Regions from separate parts of the Homo sapiens genome. Here all the other regions are linked to region 2. The links come from fine-mapping of genetic effects on gene expression. A gene starts in region 2. Each other region holds a variant in brackets. All regions are shown on one strand. Distances are from middle to middle.

Region 1 (10,387 bases), 37 kb before region 2:
CTTTTTGCATTGCTTTAACCATTGCATTGCTTCTCTTAAGAAAGAACGGTACAGTAGAAGCATGTATCAGTCAGGTTTTGCTACATCCACTCAACAGTTAGTGGCTTAAAACAACCACCATTTATTTGCTGACTTATCTCTGAGCCAGTATTTGTGCTGACTCCTCTGGGACAACTCATCTCTGTACCAGCTCATCTCTGCATCATGTGACATCAGCTGAGCTCCCTCTTGCAGTTGTGATCAGCCTATGGTGATAGCCTTACTCATTTGCTTGGCAGTCAGCTGGCTCTCAGCAGGGACAGTGCAGGTAACAGGGCCAAGTATCACTCATCTCCGAGTCACCTGGACTTACTCACATGATACCTGTAGCAAAGTTCCCAAGAGCACCAAAGGAGGCAAGCCCTGATGTGTAGGCCCTTTCAAATCCTGTGCTTATATTATATTTACTAAATATTCAAGACCAGACTCAAGGAGTAGGGATATAAACTCTGCCTCTTGATAGGAGAAGATGCCAAGTCACATTGCAAAGGGATGTGGATACAGGTAGAAGAAGACTGTGTATGCATTTTTTCTTAATCTTCCATATGAGTGGACAGCTATGAGAAAAGGTCAAGAATCCTCCCTGGCCTGACTCCGGAAAGCACCTACGCAAGGCTCCACGGTGTCAGAATGCAATTTGCAAAGCATTAAACTGGTCTAGCAGAGCAATTTCAAGAAAGACTTTCTTTCCCTGTTTCTAGAAATTTATGGTACAGGCTTCCTTGCTGTAAGATCATATCCAGTATCAAAATCAGAAATGAGACTAAGAAGTCATTGTTTAATCAAATTACTTAAAGATCTCCCCTCCCCTCAATGTGCAAGATTTTTAAATCATTGAGTTGTCATTCTCAAGAGCAGAACCTTTGTCTCAAACACCTCCTGCATCCCTGTGCACCCTGTAAAGAGCTCACATAAATAGACACATTGTAGATGCTTTTAGTCCTTATTGGTTTGTTCTCTCATTCATTTACTGAACATTTGCTGAATGTCTGCTACGTGTAACAGACAGTTCTAAATCCTAGGGATGAACAAAGCAAAATCACTTCCTCTAGTAAGCTTATTTGGGGACTGGGAATGTGATAATAAACAAATAGATAAATAAACAAACAAAATCCCCACCAAACAAGGGGTGATAAATACTAAGTTTCCTAGGATTAATTTAGGCATGGTAAGGAGAATGGGGAGTGATGGAAGTGATGGGTACTGTCTTATGGAGGCTGGTCAGAAGATCCCTCTGATGTGGTGGCGTTACAGCAGAGACATGGGGGACTGGACCCTGTGGCTGCCAGAAACAGGAGCATTCCAGGCAGAGGAAGCAAGAGCATATTGAGTGGATCTTGTGCCTCTTGGCCATTTTGTCCAGAGTTTACTCATTCATGTTCAGAACAGTGCATCATATTGACTCCAGTGGTTTCTCCAGTATCTGTAGGAAAAGGAAACTTTTCTTTTAAAAGAGAGCAGAAATGGAGTGTGGCTACTCCAAGAAAAGGCTTAGAGTGTGTTATTATATGAGTCTATTAGTGTACAACATTATATAGTGGAGAAGACTTTTTCAATTATCTATTGCTGTTATAACGAAGCATCTCAACATTTAGAGTCTTAAGTCAACAGTCATTTTAGTATTGTCTCTTATAGCTCAGCAAAACAGTGCTGCTCTGACTTGTGGTTAGATAATGCCTGGGGCCAGAGTTATCTGGAAGTCATCCTCACTCACATGTCAGGTAGTCAGTCCAGGCAGGCTAGCTGGAGCTGCCACCAGATCACCTACAAAATAGGTGGCCTCCCCATGTGGCTTGAGCTTCCTCATGGCATGGCAACTGGGTCCCAAGAGTGCGTCCCAAGAAAACGAGGTGGAAGTGCATGGCATTTTTATAACCTAGCCTCAGAATCAAATAACATTACTTTCACCATGGTCACAAGCCCTTCCAGATTCAGGGGGCAGGGGTTTAGAGTCCTCCTCAGTGTGAGAAAAATTAAGTCATATTGTAAGAAGAGCTCATGGGATAGGCAAAATTATTGTTGGCATTTTTGGAAAATACTGTCTGCCACACAAGAGATATTGGGTTCTCTTCCTGTTTGAAGATGTTCAACATCATTGGCCTTTGAGAAATGCACATTAAAACTACAATGAGCTATCACTGCACACATTTAAGAATGACTAAAATGAAAAATAGTGATAACAACACTTATTCATACACTGCTCATAGGAACTTAAAATGGCACAGCCACTCAAGAAAATACTTTGGCAGTTCTTTTTCAAAATTAAAAATGGACTTACCATACGACCATCACTTGCACTCTGAGGCATTTATCCAGAGAAATGGAAACTTATTTTCCCACAGAAACATGTACACAAATGTTTATAGCAGTTTTCTTTATAATAGTTCCAAAGTGGAAACTACCTAAATGTCCTTCAAAGGGCGAATGATTAAACAAATAGTATTAATATATCCATGTCATGGAATACCACTTAACAATAAAAACAAACAATTGATACACACGAGAACTTGGGTGAACCTCAGGGAAGTTATACTGAGTGAGAAAACACCAATCTCAAAAGGATACACACTATATGATTCCATATATTTATATATATACACACACACACACACTCATGAAATAACATAATTATAGAAATGCACAGCAGATGAGTGGTTGGCAGGGTTTTGGGGCTGTGGGAATGTGTCTGTAAAGAACAGCACCAGGAAGTCCTGTGCTGATGGTACAGTTGGGTATCTTGATTTTGGTGGTGGTTATAATAGGTTGGTGCAAAAGTAATTGCCATTACTTTTAGTGGCAAAAACCACAATGACTTTTGCACTGTTCTACACAGTCTCCCAGACTTCTTCAGCAGGATCAAGCTCTAGTTGCCCACCGTAGTAACTCACCGGGTAACTAGCCTTCCCTTGGTTAGCTGACTAGTTGGCAACACATGATACAATTTCAGAGTATACTTATATACACTACACACACAATGAGTTCATTTGTAACTGATGAAATTTGAATACGTTCTATAAATTAGACCTAATCAATTTACAAGTGTTGATATTGTACTGTAGCCGTGTAAGATGCGAATACTAGGGAGAGACGGGTGCACGTTGCAACTTCCTGTGGATTTATCATTATTTAAAAATTAAAAAGTTGGCAGGGCGTGGTGGCTCACATCTGTAATCTCAGCACTTTGGGAGGCTGAGACAAGAGGATTGCTTGAGCCCAGTAGTTCAAGACCAACCTGGGAAACATATTGAAGTCCCATCTCATCTCTACCAGAAAACTAAAAAATTAGCTGGATATGGTGGCATTTGTCTGTAGTCCTAGCACCCTGGAGGCTGAGGCAGGAGGACTGCTTGGGCCCTAGAGTTTAAGGCTGCAGTGAGCCAAGATCATACCACTACACTCCAGCCTGAGTGATAAAGTGAGACCCTGTCGCCAAAAAAAAAAAAAACTAAAAAATTTTAAAAATTTTTTAAAGTTAGGAAAAATGACCGAGAATTGCTCAGGTTTGAAAGAATGAATGCTTTCTGTCCTCTCAAAAGACTAGATAAATTATCTTTTATCAACTAAAAGTAAATCATTCAATTATTATCTATGGCATAAGTAATATCTAACGAGTCACTAATTTGTGTTAAGAAGGGAGAATGTGGTGTTTGGGATTTGAAAGAGGAAAATAAATAGTATCTCACAGAGTGGCTTAGGAATGAATAATGTAATGTGTGTAAAACCTTCAGAAGTATACCAGGGACAAGGTAGATGCTAAGTCAGAAGGCATTTCCTCTGCCCTTGTAATTAAGTGTTGTGTAGAATCATCATGACCTTTCCTTGGCCTAGGGCCAACATTTGATAAATGAATTACTTAGGGGCCAGTGAGCAGTGAGTGACTGACTTTGACAAATTCATTGGCCGGAATTCAAACCCATGACCCGCTAAGTCCAATAAGTTTATGGAAAAGAGACACACACAAGTGGTCTTTGTGATCTCTTTTTCTTTTTACTATAAATTGATTGCCACAAATCAAAACTTGGAAGATGTCATATAAAATGTCAGATTCCTGTCTTCCTTGAAAAATCAAAGGGTCTGGCAACACTGTGCCTGGATTCACACATCATGATAAGGGAA[G/A]TGGTATAAGGAGGGTGAGTTGTACCACAGCAAATGCCGTTGGTGCCCTGCCCAGATCTTCCTGCAACTTCCTATTTCAGTGATCATTAGTTTCACCTCCAAATGCCACCATCTGCATCTTTATGCCTGAAGACTTCTTTTTCTGGCCACTGTTATCTGCTTTTTCCATAACGTTCTCTAACTTTACTGAGCATCAGAACCCACTGGAAAGCTTGACAAGAAACAGATTCCTGGGCCCCAACCCCAGAGATTCTGGTTCACTCAGGCTACGTGGTACCCAGGAAGCTGCATTTCTAACAGGCTCTCAGGTGAGGCTGATGCTACATACATTGTACACTGAGTGCCATTGCCTTACAAAGAAGCACCCAGAAACTAGGCACACAAGTAGCCCCCTTTTGCATTAGCCAAGACCCTAGAGCAGACACAGAATTCTTTAGAGTGCATGCAGTTTACAGAGCAAGGGTTTTTACATTCTATCTTTAAACCTGTAGCTGCCCTGTGGATAGACTCTCTTTTGCCCACTCTCACTAGCCCCCAACCCTCCACCATTCTTTTGTGGGAACCCTGATTCCTGGCCAGGACACGTGAGAGATGGATAGGATCTCATGTTTAAATTGCAGCTTTGTCTGAGTTCTAAACTAAAGTTCCTTGTGTGGTCCTTGTGTAACAAGCTACATTTTCTCCTTTTAGGGGGCGGACAACATACTAGTGGTAGTTCTCTTAGCCTAACTGCATTAGTGAGACGAAGGTGGTTTCCTAAGCAGCCCAGTTGCACAATTCTACCCAAAGTAAGGCTCAGCTTAGCGTCTATGTGATTTGCTTTTAAGATCTGCCTACAGTGCTTTATTGTACTCATTACTTGAGTTCTCATTATCTACTTGCAGATTTATTTGGACAAATGTTGTGTGCAATTATGTTCTTTTAGAAAATTGTCCCTTTTATGTACTTGGATGATTAAAGTATCATGCAAAAGCACTTATACTCCTACAGCAGCAGAACAGGCCTCACTTCCAAGTGTCGAGTTTCAATTGCTCATCTCACATTTTGTCAGGGAGATGGTTATTAGGATGCCAGATTTTGAGGGGTTTGGGCATTTTTCCTGCCAGCAAAGAGAAACCCACACTAGATATACTGAAATTTAAAACTGCCAATAGCAAAATGCTGATACATTCACCTCCTTAACCATTCAGGTTTCTTAAATTTATAGGCAAACAAAACTGGAACGTTTGTTCCTCCTCTACTCTCTGTGTATTGGGGTTGCAAATTTACTTACACCCTAGTTTTGGAAATAAACACACACACACACACACACACACACACACCACAATTATGGTTTCTATGCTTCCTAAAACTAACCCAGACTTCTTCACAGAGTCCTACTGGCTAGATTCTTTTTAAAAATATCTATTTTAATTCAATGCATTAAATTTAGTTGGCTTGAATGATTTGAACATTGTCTATCAAAGTCAACTACATTATTATGAGGTATAAATGATACCTTTATAAACCCAGTCTTTCAGATTTAACCACCACCTACTCCCTCCTCTCCTCTCCACCTTCACTTATTCCCAAGATGGAGTGTGGGAGGAAAGACAAGCATGGCTCGTGGGACCTCAGGGTGAAGGAGATAAGAAGCATCTTCTTGTTCCTTTCTCCTCCCTGCCTTGCTTTCATTGGACTCTCCTGCTACCTGGACTGGTGACCAGGTAGCAAGATTGACTGGTCCTACTGGTGGCTGGGCTGTCCAGGGGCTCACCTCTGCTGTACATCACAGTTGCAGCCTCTTCACTCACGGGTGAAAAGGTGCCCTACAGGCTGCCTCCTTGTCCCAATCACAGGCTTGTGCCAGACCCTTCCCCATTCCCTCACTGAGATTTGGAGGAACTTCCGAACCCCTGCACATCCCACACAGGCCATGGAAGACAGTAGCATTGCCACAAGCTCACTTCCACCCACACTATAGCGCCGTGTCTCCATGGAGTACATTTTACATGCTGGTGTAAAACGAAACAGTATCTGAGACAGGTGTCAATCAATTTAGAAGTTTATTTTACCAAGGTTAAGGACATGTCCAGAAGAAGAAGAAATGAAAAACATGGATTCATAGAAACTGTCTGTGGTCTGTGCCTTTCTCCAAAGGTTAGTTTGAGGGAAAGGGGAAAAGTGAGCTGGAGGGGAAAGAGGGAGGGTATGGTCATCCACTTGTTGCAAGAGAAAAGGAGCAGGTAGGAGAACTGTCAATTATGTATTGATCTCATGCTCAGCAAATCGGCACTTTACAGAATATGATGTGAACATAGAGTCACTACCTATGGAGGTATTTACCTATGACCTGTAGCTGTCTAATTAGGAACAAAACAGAAGGTAGCTTCTTGCAGGACTCAGCGTTTAGTTCAATTTTTCCTCTTGGCAGAATGAATTGGCGTCCTGAGTTTTTATTTTCCTTTCACACGGGGTATGGCCAAGGCTGGTGTTCAATCAGTTTTACCAGCATGTCTACACCTGTTTTTAAAATATTGCAAGATTTTCATGCTAGTTGGTTGAGAGCCACTGCTTTAAGTCCTTAGGCTATCCCCCATCACTCCAGCCCCTTCCCAAGACCCTCCTCACCTCATTAAAAATGGTAATCCTTCCCAGGGTAACTCTAGGACTTTGCTTGACTTTCTATCTAGGTTCCAATTGGCCTACGTTAATCTGGTTATTGAATATTTTGAATATTACCTCTGAACACATGCTTGTGGGGCTTCTCCTCTCCCTTATTTGTATGGGGATGTATGCAACACAGATATTTCCAAAGCCCACCACCATCTGCTTGGAGTGAAAAAAAGTGATATATCATAAGGAGGCCGGGACCTGACATAGTCAACATCACTCCTCTTTCTCTCCTTCTGCAAATTATCCCAGACTACAAGGGGTGGACTGTAGGATTTTTACTTCTGTGCATTATCGACTCCTCTTATAATAGGGCACCATGGATTATGGACCACGTATCACAACTACAAGGCCCTTTTTTTCATACTACATGTGAAATTCTATGATCTGAGTCCTCTGGGGTTGATTCTTGATAAGAAATTGTGAATATCACCTCTCTGCTAAACCAGCTTCTCTAGCATTTCTTTGGGAATAATCTAATCCCTTCCAATTCAAATCGTACCACCACTGGTCCAAATCACTGGCCTTAAGCCAATTAGTGAGAATATCATGAACAAGGAAATGAAAAAAAATCACATTAATAATTTCCAAAATGTTATTTTCATTTCATCTGTGTTCCAATTTTGATTCTAGCAACAGCTATCTTCAGTGTGCTTCAGATGTTTTCAGAAAGAGCTTCAATGTGTCTTCTGTCACCTGGTATACTATTATGTATGTGTGTCAGTATAAAATAAATCTAGTAGCATTTGTTTTCTGAGTTTCTGCTGTTTGTTTGCCCAACTCTTAAGGAACACAGTAAGGCTCTGCAATCAGAAAGCAGAGTTGTTGTCCCCAAGGAATGTCATCTCTAGCTAGAGATGGAAAATCAGCACCAGAAAACAGTTCAGGATTGAGTGCATGCCAAATTCTCTGAATTTGGAAAAGAGGGTGCAGCGCACCAGCATGGCACATGTATACATATGTAACTAACCTGCACATTGTGCACATGTACCCTAAAACTTAAAGTATAATAATAATAAATTAAAAAAAAAAAGAGAGTGATCAACGTGGGCTCCTGAGAATTCTGGAGGATGTTAGATTTGATAAAGCCCTTGATGTATACCTAAGAGTTGAATATGCAAGAAAAATCATCAAAAAAACTCAGAGTTGGGAATGGACCATAAGATAACCACCTCTTTCTGATTTGCCCAGAACTTTCTGGGTTTTAGCCCTGGATATTCTACATTCTAGGAACAGCCCTGGTCCCTAGGAATGGTTTTAGTGTGTGCAGAAAGCCATGAGGAATAAAATTGGCGACACGAAAAGGCACCAGATTACAGAGGGCTTTAAAAACCATTCAGGTGGACTCGTGTGTTTGCGCCAGCAGTAGGAAGATGGGGTGTGGTGAAAATGTTAAGGCTTTTGTCAGTATGCTAAAGAGATTAGACTCTGTGCAAACAAATGCCCCCTTATCCCCACCTGTTCATGTGACCTCCTCCCTCTTCTGTTTCTTGACTGAACTGTGATCTATGATTCAAGCTATAATGTGTATACCAACAGCCTGTGGCTCTTGTTAAAGTGGAAACTGACTTTAGTAGGTCTGGGGTGGGGCTTGAGGTTCTGAAAATCTAACAAGCTCCCAGGTGACACTGCTGCTGCTGCTATTGATGAAGATGATGCTTTAAGTAACAAGACCTTGGATCCCATCCCATCCCTCCTGAAGGGATGCTTTAAAAACCCTGTCATCAGTTATCCTCACTCTCTCCTCTTTCTTCAACATCTACCACTCTGGGAACTCCCTTCTTTCAGCCTGTAACTTTGCTCTTCAGAGCAGCAGAGTGGTGGTTAAATTCCCGAATCCTGGCTCTTCCAGTTACTAGCTCTGTATCCTTGGCAAAGTGGCCTAACCACTTCTGTGTTTTGGCTTACTTCTCTGTAAAATGGAGATAATAATATTTCCTACCTCGTTAGTTTCTTGGGAGCTGTCAAATGAGATACATGTAAAGTGTTTAAAGTGTTACCTGGCAGGTAGTAAGAGCTCAGTGAGTGTATTCATTTCCTAGGACTGCTATAACAAATTGCTACCAATTGAGTGGCATTTTCTTCTCTCTGCATGAAATGTATTCTCATGATTCAAGAGTCCAGAGGTCCAAAATCAAGATTTTGGTAGTGTTGATTCCTTCTGGAAGCTCTGAGGGAGAAGTTTTATATACGTTTCTCCTGGTTTCTGGTGGTTGTGGCAATCCTCAGTGTTGCTTGGCTTGTAAACTCATCCCTCCAGTCTCTGCTTTGCCTTCACATGGTCTTCTTATCTATGTGTCTGTGTGTCCTCTCCTATTTTTATATCAGTCATGCAATTTAGGGCCTGTCCCCAATCCAATATGACCTCACCTTCACTAATTAGACCTGCAAAGACTCTTCCAAATAAGATCACATTCTGCACTTTGGATGGATGTGAATTCTGGGAGATATTCAACCCACTGTAGAGAATAGTAATAATTATCATTGTCATCATTATCATATTCACCACGTTTGTAAATGCTGGATTTCTTCTATCTATATTAAAATACATCTCATTTCTTGAAAAGCACTCTGACTGAAATCTACCTGACTGCTCTCTGTATTCCACCACTGACTCAACCTGAAACTAGAGGCTACTAGGGATGCCCTCATTGCTGAGCACAACAGCAACTCCCGGTTCTTACCTGGTTTCATCTCCCTGTTGTGTCCTAGCTGCTGCTATCCCTACCTTGGCTTTCCCAATTTATTCTCCGTTGTTTCTCTGATTTCTTGATGTCTTTCTCTTCGGTCTCCTGTAATGCCTCAATTTCGATCACCCTAGGTGCCCAGTATTTCATATTTGACCATCTTCTTTTCTCATGCTATGGCCCTTCAAGGGTTTCACTACCACTCATATCCCAAGGACCTTCTCATCCTACCCTAGCGATGGCAATACCCAGATCTTGATAGTACTGGGAGGTCAAAACTCATCACATGATAAACCTAAAGTGTGTACATTTCACACTGTGTAAATTTTTAAACTGTTAAAAAAACACATTGAACTCCAGTTAATGCTAAATTAGGAGTGAGGTGTACTGCTGTCAGTAATTCAGTTTGAAATGCATCAAAAATTAGATGAATAGATGGATGGATAGAGAGATAGGTGTGTGATAAAGCCCACACAGCAAAACATTAATAATTATAGAATCTACTCATGCAGATAGGGATGTTCACTCTATAATTCTTTCAGCTTTGCTATATGTTTGGAAATTACCATAATAACATGTGTGGCAGGGGGAATCTTGTCTCTGGGTCAGACCTCCCTGCTGAATCCTGATCTTTATAATATATTAATGCACTTGTTCTTCATTCTCCAAGGACTCTTTCACTTCTTATGATTGAGGTTCATCAATTTATGCAACAATTTTGATTTTGAAAACCTATCATGGGCCAAGCACTATTGTGGGTGTTGAAGCCACAGAGATAGTTTTTTTTTTTAACTCTAACCAGGAAGACTTGGGGTGAGATAGAGACAAGAGTCAAGGATGATTTTCTTGGATTGATGTTGGTGTCATTCACTAGAACAGGACTGATAGGAAAG
Region 2 (10,387 bases):
AGATGCCTTGGAAAATGATCATAGATGACAAAGGTGGAGATTCTCTAATATCCTGAACATTGGCATTGTTGTATTCACCTGGGGGTCTCCAACCCAAAGAAAGGCATAAACAAAGCAATCAAAATTTTTTCTGATTTTTTTTCCATGTAGAATAAACAGAATATAAAATTTAATAACCTCCTTTGTGAGGGAGAGAGAATAAATGATATGAATTCATTTATCCCACAATTGCCCAACGTGAATTGTTGCTTGACTTGAACAAATTGCAGAGGTTTTGACTCCCCTTGTGCCCTACCTCTGCAGGGGTGCTGAGATGAAAAGAATGTGTTTGACCTGAACCTGCCACAGCACAGCTGGGTCCCCTTTCAGAGGCTAAACAGACTGAGAGACAGCCTTGCTCCACACTCAGCAGAAGCAGCTGGCCTTAAACGGCTCAGCCTTCAGGTACCCTTCCCTCCCTGGAGCTTAAGGATATCCTCCTCACGAAGATGCTTGGTGGAAAGACTTGATGAGTCCATGATCTGTGCATACGCACCCACCCCCTCTGCCTTCTGGATGCACAGAAACTCGGACTCACAGCAGCAGAATCTTCAACTAGAAGTATCCGAGAGAACAAGAAGAAACGGGCCCAGAAAGGCAAAGGCCCTTTCCCCCATCTGTAGCTCTCTAGATTAACTAACGTCTTAAATACTTTAGCTGCTTTCTCCTTGGGAAGTTTGCATCAAAATTACAGTTTTTTCCAAAGTGACTTTTTAAATCTTTCTCCCTATGAAGGTTCATCTTTTGGCAAAGGAAAGAAGATGGGGAGAGAGGGAAAGATGAAATATAAGAAGGGAGGGAAGAAGGTAAAGAAAAGAAGAAGGAGGAAACAAAGGGAGACTGAGAAGAAAGGACTAAAGTGAAGGTAAACGGGGAGGAGGCTGGGAGGGAGAAAGAAAGAACTACTGAGATAAGTTCATACATTCAGCTTACTGCTTTTTTAGTCTTTGAAAATTATTAAAGAGGCAGGCAGTGTCATTTCAACCTAGAGGAAATCCAAGTGGTAACATCCTGGGGCCCTGGTAGGTCCCTCTCTCATCCTTCCTGAAATAAACTAGGTCTTCTTCCCCTCCATCCCCCAACAACTTACCTTCACTGAAGACAAAATCTGAGATAATGTCAAAAGGTTGGATGTGGACCGCAGACAGGATCATGGTGACCGTCTTCTGCGGATCACTAGAGGCCAGTGAAATGGTTTGTTGAGCTTGACACTCATAGGACTTCCCAGCGGGGGTGACCAAGGCAGAGAGGTGGTGCGAGTTGGCTGTGTGCTTCCCAGCTACAGCAAGAGCCCAGAGCAATAGTTAGAACCCTCATTGTTCCTAACCTAATGTGCCAGAGAGCTGGCTATTGCCTCTCAGTTCCAGACACCACACCCCTCCTGTCCTCTCTGTTCCCTTGCCAGGGCTAGGGCTCTACAAATGGCATCAAGTGGTGATGAAGGACAAACACACCCATTATCTTGAGAGCCAGGGCTCTTTCAATATTAATTTGGAACTCCTTTTTTGAAGAGGAGAATGATACTTAAAAACCCAACCCTTGTTACTGTATAAAACCTAGGCTGGGCATGGTGGATCCTGCCTGTAATCCCAAAACTTTCAGAGGTCAAGGTGGGAGGATCGTTTGAGCCCAAGATTTCTAGACCAGCCTGAGCAACATAGTGAGACTCTGTCTCTACAAATACACACACACACACATACATTTACAAAATTAGTCTGGCATGGTGACACATGCCTGTAGTCCCAGCTACTGGGGAAACTGGGGTGGGAGAATCTCTTGAGCCCAGTAGCTTACTCCAGGCTGTGGTGATCTATGGTGGTGCCACTGCCCTCCACCCTGGTGGACAGAGTGAGACCGCACTTCAAAAAAGAAAAAAAAAATCCCTAATAATGGAGATTCCAAAGACACAGAAGGAACAGTGACTTGGTTTTCCACATTTCACACGGGCCTGGCAAAGAATAAAACATCTTCCTCAACAAAGCCGGACAGATTGCTGGTCCTCTGGATGCTTGTCCTTACACACATACATCCCCTCTGAAGGTCTGCCTCCCATTGCTCTTTTTCTGACCTAAGTTTGATTTTTCCTTTTTCCTTTTTGGTCTAATTTAACTGGGGGACATCTTGCATCTAAACTTTGATGAAAAAGAAAAAATCCTCCTTTTACTGTGATAACAAAAAGGGGTGAAAAGGGAAAGATGACACATGTATTTTTATGTATTCAATAAAAATCCTTTCCCAACTCAGGTGCCTGGGTGATGAAGGGCCTCATTATGAGTGAAATAGACAACTTATAAAGAATAAAATAAATTTAAATGTGGTCTTTGACGGTGTCTGCAGATAGGAATATTGTTATTTGGGGGATGAACGCTCGTTTTGCCGAGGAGGATCTGGCTGAGTTGTCGGAGGGATGGGCCAGAAACGCTAGTAAATTATACATGGTGCAGAATCCACTGTCAGGTAGCTGCAGTCGATGACTGAATATCCCGTGCGAGCCATGCTGCCATGCGCAAAAAGACACTGAAGGCCATCACATCCTGACTGAAAAGGAAAGTCGCACTGCCCCCTTGCAGTTTTAGCGCATAAGAAACAAAACCAGGATGCGGAAGAAAATTAAAATGCAGCTTTGCCCTTCTCCGTGGTCCTTCAAAGGCCAAATCATAAGAGGTCGTTTTGAAGCACCAGGGAACGACAGGCCTTCAAGGGACTTCTTATCTAGGATCAGGCCACGGGTGACGTTTGGGTCCCCACGCCTGCGGTTCCTGGCGGATCTACAAGGCCTGAGACCCAGAAGACTCATGGGCGCTCCCGCCTCTTCCGCCCTAAAGAGCAAGCCGAGGGAAGACTTGGCCTGGGACCTCAAAGCGTGGGACGGTTTCCAAAACCTTGAGGAATTCTCTCTCCAAGCCTGTTCTGCGAGTTCCCAGGCTCCCTCCCCAGCCATGCCAGCCTCCACTCACCACTGACTGCGTCTTTGAAGTGGGTTTTCTCCGAGGAGTCGTAGACAAACTGCACTTTGCTCAGCCTCCAAGTCGCCTCAGGTCCCTTGGACATGTTGTGGCTTTCCTGTTGAGCCGGGGAGGTGCGCTTCAATCGTCCCCGCAGCGTCTGGGTTCTTAAACCTAGGGGCCGCCACTTCCCACACCCACGCGGAGCCTGCGGCCCCTCTGCCCGCTGGGCTCGGAGTTACCTTTACAAAGAGCATTTTGAGTGCATATGCGCGATCCACCCAGAACACTTGCAGCTCCGACTGGCTGTGGCCACAGCGGCCCTTCACCTCAGCTCCCCGGGTCAATGCGATATCGGCCTGTTCTGTGATCAGCTGGGAACACAGACGCCCCGCGCCCCCTCAGCTCGCCCGGCCCCGGGGCGGGGGCTGTAAAGGGCGGCGCGTCCAAACTCTGGGTTGCACGCTTGGGCGCTCCTTTGCGCGCGCGCATCCCAGGTTCCGGGAACATGCGGTTAGATGCTCTACGTGCAGCCCCGATAGGGAAGCGGAGAGAAGGGGGTTTACTTTCAAAGCAGGCAGGGGAACAGAAGGCATTACAAGCTGGAATCCCCATGCAGCATTCGGGAGCAGCCTGCCGGGGTGTGGGAAAGAAGGCGGGCAACCCAGGTCTTCGAAGAGCCTTGAGGAAGGGTGCCCTTCGCCCTGGAGCCCTAGGAGCAAGCTGAGGGGGGGGAAAGATTCCTTACATCTACGTAGTTGCTGGCCCACACATCATAAGGTACAATAAATTTGGCTGCAAACTCTGCCATGAGACACGTCGTCCCATTTTCCCGCACCACAAATATATCTTTTTCAGGGTTAGTGGAAAGGCCTGAGAGATTTTCCACTTCTTGTTCTGCCATGATTTGAGCCATTGTATCTGCGGAACAAACAAAACAATTCCATCAGTTCAGGGCTCAGCCCACGCGTCTCGGGCGCTAGGGTGGGGAGACAGTGCTCTGCAGGCTTTGGAGTGACAAAGTTCTCTGCCAGCAGCTGTGCGCTCTACGAGCCGTTTCTCTAACCCGGGTCTAACAAGCCTCATTCCTTCGCTGTTAATTTATAATGAAAATACAGTTAAAAAAATTAAAAATCCTGACTTTGTTTGTAATATAGCTGGCTGTTTTCTACATCTTGGGATTTTAAAGTAAATATTTCTTGCCAATGCTCTGACCTCACGAAGCTGGCCTGTCTAGGCTCTGTCTGGAATATGCCACAGAGGTGTATGGCTCTCAGGGGAATTCCCTGCCACCGGCGAGGAAGGCCCTCCCTCCTCCCCTAAAAGAAAAAAAGAAAAAACACCGCAAAACATTAAGGGCCATATTTTTTATCTCAAGCTAATTGACTTTACTTTGCCGGCTCTGTTCTCTGCAAAGAGTGCCCGTCCTCTCTCCCAGTCGCCAAATCGCTACTCACGGAACAACATCAGGAGAACTCGAAGTCTGTCGATGCTGGGGACCCCTCTTCCTTGGAGATCCATACTCGCAGTGCCCCGAATGAGGCCGGCTGTGCTGCTGCAGAGGCCGCCAGAGAGGGAATCCCTCAAAGTCGCCGCTGGAGTGGGCCGGGGTGAGCGAGAGGCGGGGGACAGAGAAGGGGGAGGGAGGGAGCGCGTATTCTGTGAGCGCCTAGCTAGGACTCGGTGTCGAGCGCGGCACCGACAGCTGCTGGCAGAGCAAATCGGCTCACTGCGGAGGAAAGGACCGCACGGCGGTCCACGGCTGCGAGTGCTGAAAGCAATCCGATTGTGTGGCAGGAGTGGCTGTGGCTTGGCTTGTGCGGAGGGCCAATGAGATCTGGGGGGACTAAACTTCTCCCTGGGTCTGTTTCCTGTTCTGCAACTGCATCCGCAAAGATGAGTCTGTTCTGAGAAACTTAATACCACCCTCAGCCTTATTAAATCTCCTTACCAGGTACAGTTATTAAGTGGTGTAGATACCTTATCACTGGAGTACTGTCTTCTGAAAACGCATCTGGTTCCCGAAAGAAAACGGTGGAGCAAAAATTGTTGCTGATTCGGGGGAGGAGGGCTATGCAGGAATAGAGAAGGGAAAATGCTATGGCAACAGTTTCCTGAATTTGGAGACATCCCCTTCTCTCCCCTGCTCTCAATGAGCTCATGGGTTTAAAGTTAAATTGACGCCTCCTCGAACGAGGCCATCAGACAATGCAGTAGCTCCATGTGGGCTTATTTTCCTGTGAATTTTGCTCCCGGGTGCATGAGGACTCTGAACTCTGGGGTCACCTACCCTCCCGCATTATACTGTGACCACTCTGCCAAAAAGGGATGCAAGCAAATCAGAAGTTTTTGAGAGTTATCTAGTGTCTCCTAGGACAGAAATTTTAGAATTATGCCCTAAGTAATGTCACATAGTTATGTAAGAAAAACACACACTGATATTACTCTAAAGCCTGTAGTGGAACAGAAGAACAAATACTACTGGGCTAATTCCTGTATTTACATATTTGGTAGCTTGCTTATTTTTTATTTTTGCTCTGTAAATCAGAATACAGCTTTCAAAAATACACATGCAGTCCTCATCAATTGTAGTGATGTCCAAATATTTTATTCCTTAGAAGATATTTCATAATGCAAATAAATGTTGCATCAGTAATATAATGTTATAAAACAATGTCATATTAAAGGGAAAATTGCAAAGTATTTCACCTGCATTATCTAATTTGATTCTCCCCAATCTTAGAGGGTAGGCAAGGAAAGATATGAGTTACTGTGGTTTTACATACCCCAAAACTGAGGCTCAAATAAATTAAATGACCTTCCCAAATGTCACATGGTCAGTTAGAATTAAAATACAAAAATCACATGCTTTAACTCTGTGAGATTATCTTCATTTCTCCTTATATAATATTTTTACTCCATATTTTGACTTCCATAAAAATCTATATTCAATATCAAATAATAATCTGAAATCTGAAATCTCTATCATTAATTCACATTCTTCAAATTTATAGAATGCTGTTTTAAGTATAATCACATTCTGACATATCTGCCACAAAGTATCTATATAATGTTTTTGGCTTTCAAACATATTCCTATATCAATCATTAGATCACTAGCAATTCAAAGTATAAAGTAATATTAAAATTGACATTATATTTTGACATCTTGACTTTTATGTTTGTAGTTCAGTATTTCATCCAAACATTTCTCAAGAACTTTACAAAGATGATTATATATAGAAGAATTGATGCAAATTTTACAGAACTTAACAGAAATGATTTTATACAGAAGATTGATAAAACGTCAGTTCTCATCAGTTGAAAGTGGAAGAGATAACATTTGTATGTGTTACATTTTTTCATGTTAGCAATTATTATTAAACACTTATTTTCCTGTAGTACTGTAAAACTGGAAAACAATGAGACATGTAATAAAGTATTTATTCTCTCTCTCTCTCTCTCTCTCCAGTATTTTATGAGGACAGAAATGAGTAGATTTCAGTCCAGGATTCACTACTTATTATTTTTGTGACCTTCTGAAGATTTTATTTGTTCTCATCTGAAAAATTGGGAAAATAACTCAGGGGATGGCTAGTTAAACCAAATGGGCCAATGAGTATAAATAAACAAAGTACAAATAGATCCATAAACATTAACCGAATACTTACTACTTCCAGTATGCTTGATGCTTTGAAAACCAAAAGATATTTATCATTACACAAGTAGGAGAGACACCTATAAAAGATTTTGACAATTTCTCTTGCAGTATGTTATTGCAGATATCTTCACTATATAAGTTGTTAAAAGATCAACTGAATTAATTCATGATTATCTGCCTTAATAATAAAAGATTAGGTGAGTAGTAGCATTGGTCATTGATCTTAAAATGTAGTAGTTGATTTACAAATGAGATGGTTGTTCCTTTGAAAATTATACCTGATATAAATGATCTCTTTGTTGACACTGGAGAGTGTACCCTAGAGTACTCAAATGGGTTGAAAGAAGAAAGAAAGCAATTTTAACTCTTTTTTTCTGGGGGGATTATTTTCAAAGCACAATCAGTTTAATGACTTTTTTAATATTTAATCTTAAACATGGCTAACAAATGCCCATTAATTTATCATCTTATCCACTGTGATACATTGCAATAGGAGTTAGGTCATTATACCTACAACTTTCACCTACATTAATTAAATATCTTTCTAATCATTCTGGAAAAAAACTCTTTGGTTCTCTAAAATAAGCAAAGAAGTGATCAAGGAGCAAAATTTGCCATTAAATTGCATTTTAATATATTAACAATGTTCCCCAGAATTTGCTCTACTTTTCATTTCTCAAGTCTAAAAGATGGTAGGAGAAATTGACATAAATATGTACACCTGTGTGGGTGGTAACTGTGTCAATTTTTATTATTGCTGCTGGTGGTCAGTAGAAACTGTTAGGGTGCAGTGTGACCTAAACACACTGGATTTGGGATCTCCTCTAGATCTTCTAGGTCCTTCAAAGGCTGTTTTTCAATTCATATGGATACTTACTGAATTAGCCTTTATGAATCTCATGCCATTGAGTGGTTGCTGTTTTATAAAAGGGCAAGAAGAGGCCCTTGCATAGAACTTTCAATTTGGATGAGAAGAATTTACATAAAGATTCCAGTTAGCCTAGCACAGTGTCTGCATAAATGTTCAGGGGGAAAAAAAAGTAAGACAGGCATCCCAGGTGGGAGAGTGGTTGAAATTGATGAAAAAAGGTCTCTTGGAGAAGGTGAGTCTTGAAAGAAGTTGACAAACTGATGTAGGGTGGAAGGAAGGATACGGATGGAAGAAATATCTATTGAATAGGGAATCAATGCAAAGATGTAACTCTTCATCCATCCATATTTATCCATTTGCAATAAAAAGCAAATTAGGCCGTAAATCAACAATGCCTTATGTACTATAGAACCCCTATTTCATTTCCGTATTTGATAATTTACCCACATATGGCATATGCAAAAGAATGGCCTATGCAAAATTTATTCTAAATAAAATTAAACTTTTTAAGTTGTTAGGGGCATCTTTTCATACTTGGTTGTGCAAGCAATTGACTTGTATTTGTAGAATCAAGAAACAAAACTATGAAAATTAGTGAACAATACTAATAAGAAAAGCGTATTTATAGCTTCAAAAGGAAAAGGCTGGGCTTTGTTGCAGCTGAAATTTGGTTTATTGAGGTTTCAGTTCACTTTACAGTAAAGTGTAAAAATGTACTCCTTGCTCTGTTGTTCCCACAGCCACCAAGCCATCCCTCTGCAACCCACACACAGACAACGGACGCACACCCGAATAACAGAAGCAGAAATAATTTAAACAAACAAGATGCATGCAGCTGTTAAGCCAGACTTTCTACTCACCAAAACTTTTCTTGTGTTCAGCTTATCATAGAACAATTAATTCATTTAGTCATTGCCTTCAAAGACCTTCGCAACCCTTTCTAGGATCTAAACTCTTGTGGGACAGAAACTGAAAAATAAATGTATGCACAAGAATTATTTTTCAGTTTCTATCCCACAAGGGTTTAGATCCAGAGCAAAGAGTACAAAAATAAGTGTGCGCATGAGCAATGTATGCACAAGAATATTTCGCACATACATTGCTAAGCCCTAGAATATTTGGAAAGAATCAGAAAATTGAGTTTAGGCTCCAATGCACTCAGTCTGCATGCCCTTGGTGTAATTTTCCTCATCCTAGTGCTTCTTTGGTGTCTCCTGCATCTACTCTAATGAAACAATGGTTATTTCTGCAATAACGGTAACCAGTGGAGGAAACAAACCACCAGAATAACGGCCTTTTTATTGGCTATGTTCACACTAAGTCCTGAAAAAAATACCATTTATGAGTTCATTTAGAAGAATTGCCTTCAGCATGGGGCAATATAGAGAACTGCATCCTTATAGCAAACCCTAAATAAGTAAATGGTGAGGGGCCAGGTAATCATTCCTCAAAATTTCAGTAGCAAATAAATCATTTTTGTCTTTTGAATCCGTGATTAGTTAACTGTTCTGGTCAGTCTTACATTTTTGGTCAGTGATACACAACTCACTCTGCTATCTCGGGAGGGAGGAAAACCTTGTTAACTTCTGGGCAGGGCACCTTTCTGTAAGGTTGAATTAAAACTCATTTGAGGATTTTAAAAAATCTTTAATGAGTCTGTTCTCCAAGAAATGACATCTGTCACAATAGGCCTAAGGTTAGACTAGCTGTGTCTCATTTAACATATTTTGCTACCTGAATTCTGTGATAATGCAGTACCCTCAAAATCTCTGAGATGGCACAGGAGTCCATTGTTCCCTTGGTTACTACTCTCTCTCTCTCTCTGTTTTTTTTTTGTTTTGTTTTGTTTTGTTTTTTTTTGAGAGTCTCACTCTGTCGCCCAGGCTAGAGTGCAGCGGTGCAATCTTCGCTCACTGCAACATCTGCCTCCTGGATTCAAGCTATTCTCCTGCCTCAGCCTCCTGAGTAGCTGGAACTACAGGCATTTGCCACCATGCCCGGCTAATTTTTTGTATTTTTAGTAGAGACAGGGTTTCACTATTTTGGCCAGGCTGGTCTCGAACTCCTGACCTCGTGATCCGCCTGCCTCGGCCTCCCAAAGTGCTGGGATTACAGGTGTAAGCCACTGTGACCGGCAAATTACTCTTTTAATTGTCTATCTGAAGTTATCTGCATATTAACTTGAAGATGTGTTTGGAACTAAGGAAAATTTATATTAATGGCCTTTGGGAAGGAGGGTGAGAGTGGAGCCCAGAGCCCACTGTCTCCTATTGAAGCTTTGCTTGCATTGTAGCTGGAGTCCTGGAATTCCCTGGGGTGCTCTGATGTTGTAAGTTTAGGACTTTGTTTTTTCTCTCTCTCTCGTTGTAAAAGCATAGCAAGATGTTTTAGTAACAAGGTAGTGGGAAAGGGAGAGTGTATTGGAAAGGCAAATGGGATGGGAGTATAAGAAGCGATATGTTAGTTATGACTTTATTACTCTAGTAGCGACAACATGTGGAAGGAGTGGCTTCAATTCTCTGGTCTTCGACATAGCTTTCCTAAAGGATACCTCCAGAACTACATGCCCCAAGTCTGAGTGATCTGAGTAGGGAAGTAATCTGAGCAATATCCTTTGGCTGATGGGGGGTGGGGTGCTCGGAATTTCATTATTAACATGTAATATCTGAACGTGCAGGAAGTGTGCGCTGCTCAGGACACATGGCCCGTGGTCTGTGGTGTTACCTTTGGATGGCGCGGCGGTAGGTGGGCCTGGTTGCTCATGGCTCAGTATCCCTGGGCTGGCCCGCGCGCCCGCTGCGGACTCCAGACTTGACGGCTTCTGCCCGCGGGAAGGAAGATGCATTCTACTGTTGGGCGCCTCGCTGCCTGC
Region 3 (10,387 bases), 66 kb after region 2:
GTAACTATTCATCATGTGACATGGTTTCTAAACACCTGCACATTTTGGAGCTCTTGAATGCCATTATTATATAATGAGAGGCATCACTGTGTTTGTCACCATCAGCTGAATTTGAATCTACATCACTTAATATTTTCACTGGCTTACTTATCTAGAAGCAGTTTATGAGGATAAAGTGTTCAGGAGCTATGGCCTTCTGTTTTACAGATATTTAAAACATTTTCCCATCTGCTTCACGTAACCATTGAAATTGGGGCTGCAATGCTTTGGAAAGTAGGTATTTCAATATAAACATTATTTCTTCCTGGACAATGAAAAAGGCATTTAGCTACAGCCAATGACTTATATGAAATCAGATTTCTTTAGCTGCTCAGCCTCCCAAGCACAGAGGAAATCAGTACAATCAGAAATTTCCAACTCTAAATGACACTTGATGTTATAGCCTAACCTTACTCTTGAGAACCAGAAAAATGGGATGCTATTCATGACTGGAATGGGTGTACATGTTGTTCAGGTTATATAACCCCTCTCACCGTCATATTTCCTTTCACTTATTGAAGAAAATAGTGCCTTAATTTAAAAGCAAATTTATTTTCTTTCTAAGGTAGGCTTGACTTTATGCAAATCTAATTCATGAACTTCTTTTAACGGTTTCATAAAATATAAATGGGGAAGGAATTTTTAAGTCTTTACCAAGACTTCCTTAATTTCCCAGCTAAGAGATTTAACACAGGACTTGATCTACAATTCATTTATATATAAATTCTTTAGAAACGCATTCATGCACAAGGCCTCAGCATTCTTGTCTTTAGGAGAAGGAGTGGAGAAGGGTGATGCTGGATAGGGAGATTCCCAACATAGGAACTTACAGTGGGAACAAAGGCTAGGTGGGCTTGCTGTGGATCTGGGCTTAATTTGTAATTGGAATGCCCCATAAATCTAGCCATATTACCAATGTGTGTGCACCTTTGTGCTATAAACACATTTCCTCCAGAGCTTCTGCAATGTGGCACTGGGTTAAGGACATGGGTTTTTCAGTGCTGGGGTGAGTCACTTACCTTTCCAGAGTATGCTCATCTTTATAATTGGGATAGTGACATTTACTTCATAGGGTTGTTAGGATTAAAAGTGAATCTAATGTATCAAATGTGTGTTACAGCTTATTCAAAACACAGTGACATACAAACCTATCTATACTATTCAATACCCATGATAACACACAGAGAGTGACTTGAGATAGGGATATCAATCAGACTAATTAAATCAATAAATGTTTCCTCCATGCTTGATCTACTGCCCCAGGAATAGAGGAACATGTTGATGTATCCCTGAATGTATTTAACTACTCTTGTAATACTTTGGTACCTACTAAAATGCCCTCCTCCTAGTCTTCTTTCTAAGATTTAGAAATCATTATGGTTGGCTAACCCATGTGTTAATTTTTCCTGGGCAAAAAATTAAATAAATAAGGGGCTTTCTGCAGGTCTCAAAATATATCAGAAGTGCCACAGTCCTATATTATCTTGCAAATATCATTGAAAGGAGGGTGAAGGCTATTTCTTTAAATATTTTAGTGCAGAACAGGACAAGTAGAGACTTTGAGGCTTGGATGTAAATTGACACAGATTTTTTTCCTAAGAAAATATTTTGGTGAACCTTATTAATCCAATTAGATATGAGGAATAGGGCTCTTTGTACCACAAAGTTGTTTATGATGGATTCAACTCTATGTAATATGCTCTACAAGAGCAGGGCAGGTCTTTTCTCTTTACCAGTACATGGCACAAAGCCTGGTACAAAGTATATGCTCAATAAGTATTTATCGCATGAATAAAAAGTCAGCATAGGAAAATAGCAAGAGGACTTAGATTCTGGTCCCAGCTCAGCCAATAATTAAACAACTGCCCTTGTGTAACATATATAAATCTTCCCAGGCCTCAATGTCTTTATTAGAAAACTGAGTTAGGGCTGGGCACAGTAGCCCATGCCTGTAATCCCAGGACTTTGGGAGGCTGAGGCGCATAAATCACCTGAGGTCAGGAGTTCGAGACTAGCCTGGCTAACATGGCAAAAACCCAACTCTACTAAAAATACAAAAATTAGCCGGGCATGGTGGTGCACTCCTGTAATCCCAGCTACTCTGGAGGCTGAGGGACGAGAATTGCTTGAACCCGGGAGGCATAGGTTGCAGTGAGTCGAGATCATGCCACTGCATGACAGAGCAAGACTCCATCTCAAAAAAAAAAAAAAAAAAAAGAAAAGAAAAGAAAAGAAAACTGAGTTAGGTACCTTTGCCTAACCGAATTCATGAGTTGCTTATGAGATGCAAGGTTACTAAACATATGCAAAAATAATTTGAAAAACTGAAAGCATATTGAATTAAAGTGACTATAATTAATGTCAGTAACAGGAAAGCTGGTCCTGAAAAATTGTCTCTGTTTCTCTTTTTATTCAAAACTCCATCCCTGTGTGGTAGGCAGTGATTGCTGAAGTGTTTTGGGATAACTTGATTCCCAGACACCACTTGTCCTTTCAGAAAGAAATGGGGATCCTAATTACTGATTTCCATGTGACTCTGGTCAAGTCTCAGCTCATTGTGCTGTAAAATGAAGGAGGCATGAAATGATCTCTAAGTCCATCTTAGCTTAAAAAAAATGTCCATTATTGGTTTTATTCTTTTGGTCCTTAGTTAAATCATGAAACACTATTGAAGAGACATACATTTCTCATTCATTCAAGCCAAGAGTACCAAAATTAAATGTGTTAACTTAAAGTAAATCTTAACTGGGACATTTTGGGGAAAAACATGTATAGCATTCAGAAGAATTTGTGTACGTTTCTTATCCAAGTTAAGAGTAAATTCAGCTTCTTTTGGGGAAAACTGCTGCTGCAATTCATTCTTGTGACTGATGTGACTATGGGCGTGAATGATCGCACCACAGAGGGTGCTGAAAAATTGGAGTAAATCATGTTTGCTCAGCATGTAACTCTGAGATTACCAATAGGCGGACTCTGAGGGCAACTGCTGTGTCTCTGCCCCTTTCCACTGCAAAACTAAGTTATAGGTCTGGTACTAAGGTCTGACCATGAATTAAAATTGATGAGTTTAACAACAGTCTTGGTGCTGTCGGCTAAATTGCTTGCATAGCAAAGAGAAAATTTTCCATCAGTAGCTTTACTAAAAATGCCAGAGTTTAGTAGGCTTCTCAGGCATTTCATTTGACTCATTTAATGTTGATACTGCAAACTGGTGGCCTAAGGAATGTATCCTGCCTGCAGATGTAGTTTTTAGTTTTGGATTTTGTTTTGTTTTTTCCTACGCAGTTTCAAAAAGAGGTTGAATTAGACGCCGATAGTAAAAGATCAGGAAATTCAGATAAGCTTTCTGATTTTTTGACTCTCCTTTAAGAGGACACGACTGACCCATCTACTCTCCAGGCACCAATGGTGGTAGCTCAGACTGACTTGGCCTGTGGATAGAGATGAGTGCTCCCAGCTTTTATGGAGTCAACACCTGTCCAACTTCCCTCAGCTACTTCCTGCTTGGACCCCATAGGCATTTGAATTGTAATTCCCCTTCTAACACGTTACTGGAGATATGTATCCAACTTTGGGTTTTACATTTTTGGCTCTAAGGAATTGACCTCATTGGACAATTGAAAAGCATGCCTGTCTCTTAATGAAAGTAACTGCAGCTCTGGATCCCAATGAGTCATGTGCTGGGGGAGGATTATTGTTAATTAATTCTCCTTTTTCTGTGTCTCATATAATAGACACTTGAAAAACCATTACCCTAGTTTCCATTTCGAATTGAAGTGGTTCTAGAAAGTATGAGACAAGTAGAAGTTTGATTGCCAGTACATTCAGAGGGTCAAATGCAGTTGATCATTGCCATTTTCCAAAAATAGACATTTTAATGAGCATTTTTATATCCATCTGGGGTGCAAATGGTCGTTACCCCCATCTTTTCTTCTCAATATCCTAACAGCAAATTGCACACCTATTTGCAAATGGCAGAACCTCACACTCACCCCACTGTTCCTTTCTATCTGGTAGCTAACCTGCAAGTTTGGAAATAAGCTCTCCTTGGGACCATACATTTATTTCTTAAACTGCTGAGATATAGTTCATAGATTCTCTGCTTCTCTTTAAGTCTAAAAAGTAGAATTATTTATCTAGGCCAGCAGTGGCAAATCTTTTGGCTTCCTTGGGCCACATTGGAAAAAGAATTGTCTTGGGCCACACATAAAACGCTGACACTAATGATAGCCAATGAGAGAAAAAAAAAAAAAAAGTCTGTGCATAAATCTCATGTTTTAAGAAAGTCTACAAATTTGTGTTGGGCTGCATTCAAAGCCATCCTAAGCTGCATGTGGCCTGGGAGCTGCATGCAGGTTGGACAAGCTTGATCTAGGCTGATATGTAAGAGCTGAGATCTCCCTACAGTTGCTGGATATAGACTAAATAATAGTCCCTGTTCTTAGCTACCAAGGGCTGTTTGGGCCAGGGGCACACTAGTAGGGAGAGTGCAGCCCAGGTCATATTTCTTCATCAGCAGGTCATTTTATGACATAAGGCTTTGGGGTGGTAAGCCTTAGCTCCATGTTGGGTGGCTGAAAACTATTATAAAAGAGCTGTAGATGTCCTTTCACAGAAAGGATGTAGGAATTAATTCTTACTATTATGTGGCAAGAGGATAAAACCTCTGTTTCTTTAAGGAGGCTTGATAAGTGTCTTTGCAGGCGATTAGTGGGGTTTCTACTAAGGGCTCAAAAGATAGTAAAAAGTGCTACATAATGTTCCTAAAAAAACAGTCCTCAAAATTTAGCATGCAGAGGAGAGGAGTTTATCTAAAATGTATTTCTGTATTTCCTATATTCTTTTCTTAGAGATGATAGCTAAGTGTCAGA[T/C]AGGCATAAGAATACATATTTTTGTAAAGCCTCCAGCTCTTGGCCCAATGACCTTATGTTGAAAAACCAGTCCTGAAGGAACCCAAGATATTTGTGCCCTGATAGGTTCATGATTGCTCTTAAAAACCTGTTAGTGAGACCATAAAGAAAAAGATGTGTGAAGAGAAGAAAAATTAGTGTGAGAAACATCAGAGGCAGCTGAGTATAGTGGTTACAAGTCTGAGTTCTCAAGCCGGGCTGAATTTGGTTCAAATCCTGACTCCACCACTTAAAAACTAGATGATTTAATGAAGCTGTGTTTTTTTAAGTATTAATAAGCTAATCTGTTGAATAGCCGGTAGGCTATAAAAATGGCCACAGTTATTTCCCTTTCTGCATCCACTCCCACTTCTGATGTAACTTTGTCACCTGTCAAAAGGTAGAGACCTCATAAGGCCAGACTTAGGACCTACTTTGGCCAAAAAATGAGGTGGAAGTGATGGTGTGTTAGTTCTGAGCTGGGGCCACAAGAAACTATGCTTGATCTGCTTGGTCTCTCAGGACCCCAGCCATGTGAACAAGCCTGGACTAGCCTGCTGGAAGACAGGAGACCACATAAAGCAGAGAGGAAGTGGTTTAACAGAGGCTGACCTAAATCAGCCAGTCCCCCATCTGCCAACCAAACTGGTAGTAACAGCAGATTCATGAGTGAATACAGCTGAGACCAGAAGAACCATCCAGCTAAACCCAGCTCCAACTACTGATGCACAAAATTGTGAGCCAAATAAATGGTCATTGTTTTAAGTCACTACATTTTAGGGTGGTTTGTTACCCTGCAAAAGCTAACAGATACAAAACTCATATAATTATAGTACTCCTTTATATAACTGTTATGAGAATACCTAAGAATATGTGCTTAAGCAAGTATCAATATGTACAAGCTAGTATTGCCACTTTAAAAGTGTTGACTGACAGAAAAATCAGTGTTAGGATAAACACGTCATATGGAGATCAGGCATGAAGTATGTCCAATGGTAATAGATTCACCACATTGTTCCCCTCTCCTTAAACAGTTTTTCATTTTTTGGTTTTAAAGACAACATGTTTTTGTTGTTGTTGTTGTTGTTTGTTCTGTTTTGTTTTTGAGACAGAGTCTTGCTCTTGTCACCCAGGCTGGAGTGCAGTGGCACAATCTCAGCTCACTGCAACCTCCGCCTCCTGGGTTCAAGTGATTCTCCTGCCTCAGCCTCCCAAGTAGCTGGGATTACAGGCACCTGCCACCATGCCTGGCTAACTTTTGTATTTTTACTAGAGACAGGGTTTTGCCATGTTGGCCAGGCTGGTCTTAAACTCCTGACTTCAGGTGAGATCTGCTTGCCTTGGCCTCCCAAAGTGCTGGGATTACATGCATGAGCCACCATGTCTCGCCTAAAGACAATATGTTAACAGAGCTGGCATCGGTGTATATTAGGCAAGTAAATATTCATTATATTCTTCATCTTAGAAGTTAGCTTGGGCCGGGCATGATGGCTCCAGGGAGTTAATGGACAACTCTGATGTAGGTTAAGTTCTAAAAATTGAGGGGCATCCTTCCTTAGTCACAGTCCTGATAATCAGCAGTATATCAACACTGCCCAAAGTTGATAGTGATTTTCCCTAATGTCCCATGTGCTGTCACTGCATTTGACCCAATGAGGGAACTTGTCCACTTAGTGAGCATCCCATATCCTACACAGGAGTATGGTGCAAGACTATGGATTCTGGACTCTTGATTTTGGTTCAAATATCAGCTATGCTGCTTCCTAACTCTGGGACATCAGATAACTTCACTAATTCCTAATTCCCTCACATATAAATGGAGACTCACATAGAATTTACCTTACAGGGTAGAGTCTTAAATGAGACAATGCATATAAGGTGCTGAGCACAGCATCTGAGAATTACTGAGCATGCAGGAATTCTAGCTGCTATTATTGCTGCTATTATTACCACCCGCCACAGCATATTTTCTGGCCATGCCTCAAGAAAATATTAAATGAAGCCAAAATCTTTATGTTTCCAACTAGCCCAAAGGCCACTGAGGTGTCTGCTCAATAAAAGAGATCCAATTTAAATGCAAGAAAAATCTGTTAGATAGTGCTGCAGCATACGGGCATCCACTCTATTCCAAATAATTAAAGTCATTTAAGGTGCTTTCTCTCTTATTTCTCATTCTTACTCTTTTTCTGTTGGCTTTCCATAGTTCAGCCTGTTGTCAATAACCAACAACATTGAAGCCCCTACTTTAAATTGTTCTGTCTCCAATAACCCCATTGAGCAATGTAAGGAATTTCACTGAATGGAATTATTCATGAAACTTAGAAACAGTCTTTGAAGTGAAGTGACTGTATCAGCAAATCCATTGAGCCCAACAGTTCTGTAATACAGGGAACATTACTAGGATAAGATTAGGCCTAACTTCTAAAAAAAATCAGTGTTAGGATAAACTCTTAAAGAAATGACTTCTCAAAAAATCAGTGTTAGCACAAACTCTTAAAGAAATGACAGGGGACAGGGTTCCAGACAATGTTCTCGGCATCTCAATACGTGGAATGATTAAAAGGTACATCACTCAAGCCAAGTTCTGAAGGACATGCCTTGGTTTGAGGCTTGGGTCAGAGAATAAAGAAACAGGAATGCAAGATTAGTTTAAAAGAACTCAGAAGTTCTTTCAAATTAATAAATTATAAATTAAGTTTCTCTTGCTCTCATTGCCCTTAATAAAAGAGGACAGACATTATCCTACCAGCAGCAGCTGGTTATTATATGTTCTTAGGAAGGAAAGAGGTACTACCTTTTTCTTCTTTACCTGTGAGGGAGTCTGGAAGTGACGATGTTTGAGGGCCATGACGTTTTTCAACCCACAGGAGAATTCCTGGGGCCACCTCCTGCTGTTCTCTTACAATTTGCAACTAGCTCTTGTAATTTTTCACAATCACTGTCAAAATACCACTTCTTATGGGTAAAAAGCAAAAATAAATCTATTTCAGAAGTAGGCTACTGGGCAAGATTTACATAAGGGAGAAAAAGTGACAAGTGTTCTCTCTCTAGGTGCTGTGAGTGGGAGGTTGACAGATTGCTAGCATCTCCCTCCATGCACCAGTGTGTATGGCAAACTATGTGACAGTGACCTGGCAATTTAGGTAACTAGTGGCTAGAATTGTGAGCTGGTCTTCAATATTTTATATAGTCATGTTATTAGTGAAATAATTTTTCTTTTTTTTTGAGATGGAGTCTTACTCTATCACCTACACTGGAATGCAATGGCACGATCTCAGCTCACTGCAACCTCTGCCTCCCGGGTTAAAGCGATTCTCCTGCCTCAGCCTCCTGAGTAGCTGGGATTACAGGGGTATGTCACCACACCCAGCTAATTTTTGTATTTTTAGTAGAGACAGGTTTTACCATGTTGGTCAGGCTGGTCTCAAACTCCTGACATCCTATTCTACCCACCTTGGCCTCCCAAAGTGCTGGGATTACAGGCGTGAGCCACTGTGCCCGGCCTAGTGAAACAATTTTTAAATGGATGAAGCTTTGTTATGCATTTGAAAGAATTGTTAGAAATGCAGACTACAAACAAGTGACAAGCACTCCCAAACCGATTCTATTTTTTAATTTCATTGTTAACCAGTTAGAATGAGTTATTACTGTTAAGTGGTCTGGTATCAGCTTCAAAGTAGTGTTTTTGGCTACAAATGATTCATCCATACATAACACAAAATAGTAGCTGTAGAGCACTGTACCTTTGCATGTTTCTTCTTTAAAGAATTTAGCTCCTTCTGCTGTTTCTTTAAATGCTTCAAGTAAGCCTTTGGGAGAAAAATAGAATCAAAAATAGGTTTTTTGTTTTTTCTTTTTGTAATCACAATGATTACACTTGGTGAGAAACAAAAATATATTGGTGTCACCAATATGTGTAATACAAGAGTGCTTGCAAAATAGTCAAGCAATTTTACCTTCATCTGCTTTAAGTCTTCTATCCTTACTTGAGGGATAAGTTCAATACCTAAACAAACAAAAAAAATTAAGTCACTATGTATACTAAAAATCAGAGAGAATAACTGGTAATATAGAACTGACATATCGAAATCTCATCGAAAGACTTTGAAGCAGCTTTACATATGATGAATATAAACATCTTAAGTTCCTATTACAAAGCAATTAACTGGACAATTGAAATGTTGAATGTCTTAACTTAGGTCAGGTTTCCTACAAGCAGAGCCTGAGAAGGGGATTCATGTGCAAGTGATTGATTGAGGGCAGACTCTCAGGAGAAACCCCTAAGGGAATGAAAGAAGTGGAGCAGGGCAGAGGAACAAGGTAGGGTGTGTTTCCAGTAGAAATCCAGCCTCAGTCTGATCCTGCAGGGAGCTCTTCAGTACAAATGGCACCCAAGAGTCATTCCACCTTGGCAAAAAGAGGCTGGGCATTTGTAACCCTGGATCAATCAGCTGAGTGCTACAGAGGTTTCACAAAACCTTTCAGGCAAGGGAACTCTCATGGTCCCAGGGCAATTCTATGGAGAAGGGCAGCTGAAATGCCCAATCAGCCAAAATTCATAGGAGCTGTGAGATGGGATAGTGAACCCATAAAGGGGAGCTGATCAGGCACAAAAGTATCTATTATCCTTATTCTTACCTTTGTATTTCAAGGCATATCATGCCAGTCAACTAATTCCCAACTCTATTCTCAATTCAGTCATTGTGAAAGAATAAAACATTTTTTTCTGGCTTCTCCCTTTTACCAAATTCAATCTTAGCATTTAAGCAATGTGCTATTGAGCACAGCAATGCCTTAAACATACAGGAAATAATAAAATCAAACCAGTGTATAACAGGAGCATACCAGGAGGAGCTAGGGTAATACACTAAGTCATCCTGCTATCTGAGTGATGCTAGGCCAGGTGTTGTCATGGCAACAACAGTTGTAGCCAGATCCTCAAACAGTTTCTGTTTGACTGCAGATTTTCATCTTAGGCAAACAAAATGAATGTGTACTCTGTGCTGTAATTGATTTCCATTAGAATCCCAAAGGCTAGGTATGATATATTCAAGAAAGATAGGCATCAAGTCCCAGGCTCTTGTTTTTCCCTTTTATTCATTTTAAGATGTGCACATTCAATGATAGGGTGGTCAGGCCGCAGAAGGAAAGTTTTGGCTGAGGGAAATCAGCCTTGTGATCTGTAACATTTTATGATCGGGGTATAAAGGGTCCATGGGGCTCTCTACTGATCTCCTAAGTTGGCTTTCACAAGCTGTCTCTCTAGTGACTGAGGCAGGGTAAGGCAAGGGAGTGACTCCTGGCACACAAAGAGCTCCCTGTCTTTAGGCCTCAGCTCTCTCATCTGTAAAATGAACATACAGGATTTGGGGAGTATGCAAGGTCCTCCAGAGATCTAGCAAATTCTGAGTTTGACCCAGTCTGATGAAACTTACACTCTCTCTCTCAATTTTTATTTT

The links.
Region 1: its variant is fine-mapped to the expression of LAMP5 in whole blood (TOPMed, PIP 0.94).
Region 3: its variant is fine-mapped to the expression of LAMP5 in whole blood (TOPMed, PIP above 0.99).

What each region holds. Positions count from the first base shown.
Region 1 is chr20:9,545,822-9,556,208 of GRCh38, reverse strand. All of the region lies in intron 7 of PAK5 (p21 (RAC1) activated kinase 5), which reads left to right. Among named protein-coding and RNA genes, the nearest start is that of LAMP5-AS1, 36 kb to the right of the region's middle. The variant G/A (reference allele first, on the strand shown) is at 4,156.
Region 2 is chr20:9,508,971-9,519,357 of GRCh38, reverse strand. It overlaps LAMP5 (lysosomal associated membrane protein family member 5), which reads right to left and starts at 4,768. Exons shown (of 6, transcript NM_012261.4): 1 at 4,442-4,768; 2 at 3,733-3,905; 3 at 3,227-3,358; 4 at 2,997-3,102; 5 at 1,130-1,318. The coding sequence starts at 4,505. LAMP5-AS1 (LAMP5 antisense RNA 1) reads left to right here and starts at 4,360. Exons shown (of 5, transcript NR_109957.1): 1 at 4,360-4,594; 2 at 10,193-10,387. RefSeq lists enhancers at 1-705, 3,249-3,833, 8,152-8,201.
Region 3 is chr20:9,442,528-9,452,914 of GRCh38, reverse strand. PLCB4 (phospholipase C beta 4) reads right to left here. Exons shown (of 40, transcript NM_001377142.1): 31 at 8,885-8,934; 32 at 8,672-8,737. Among named protein-coding and RNA genes, the nearest start is that of LAMP5, 67 kb to the left of the region's middle. The variant T/C (reference allele first, on the strand shown) is at 4,911.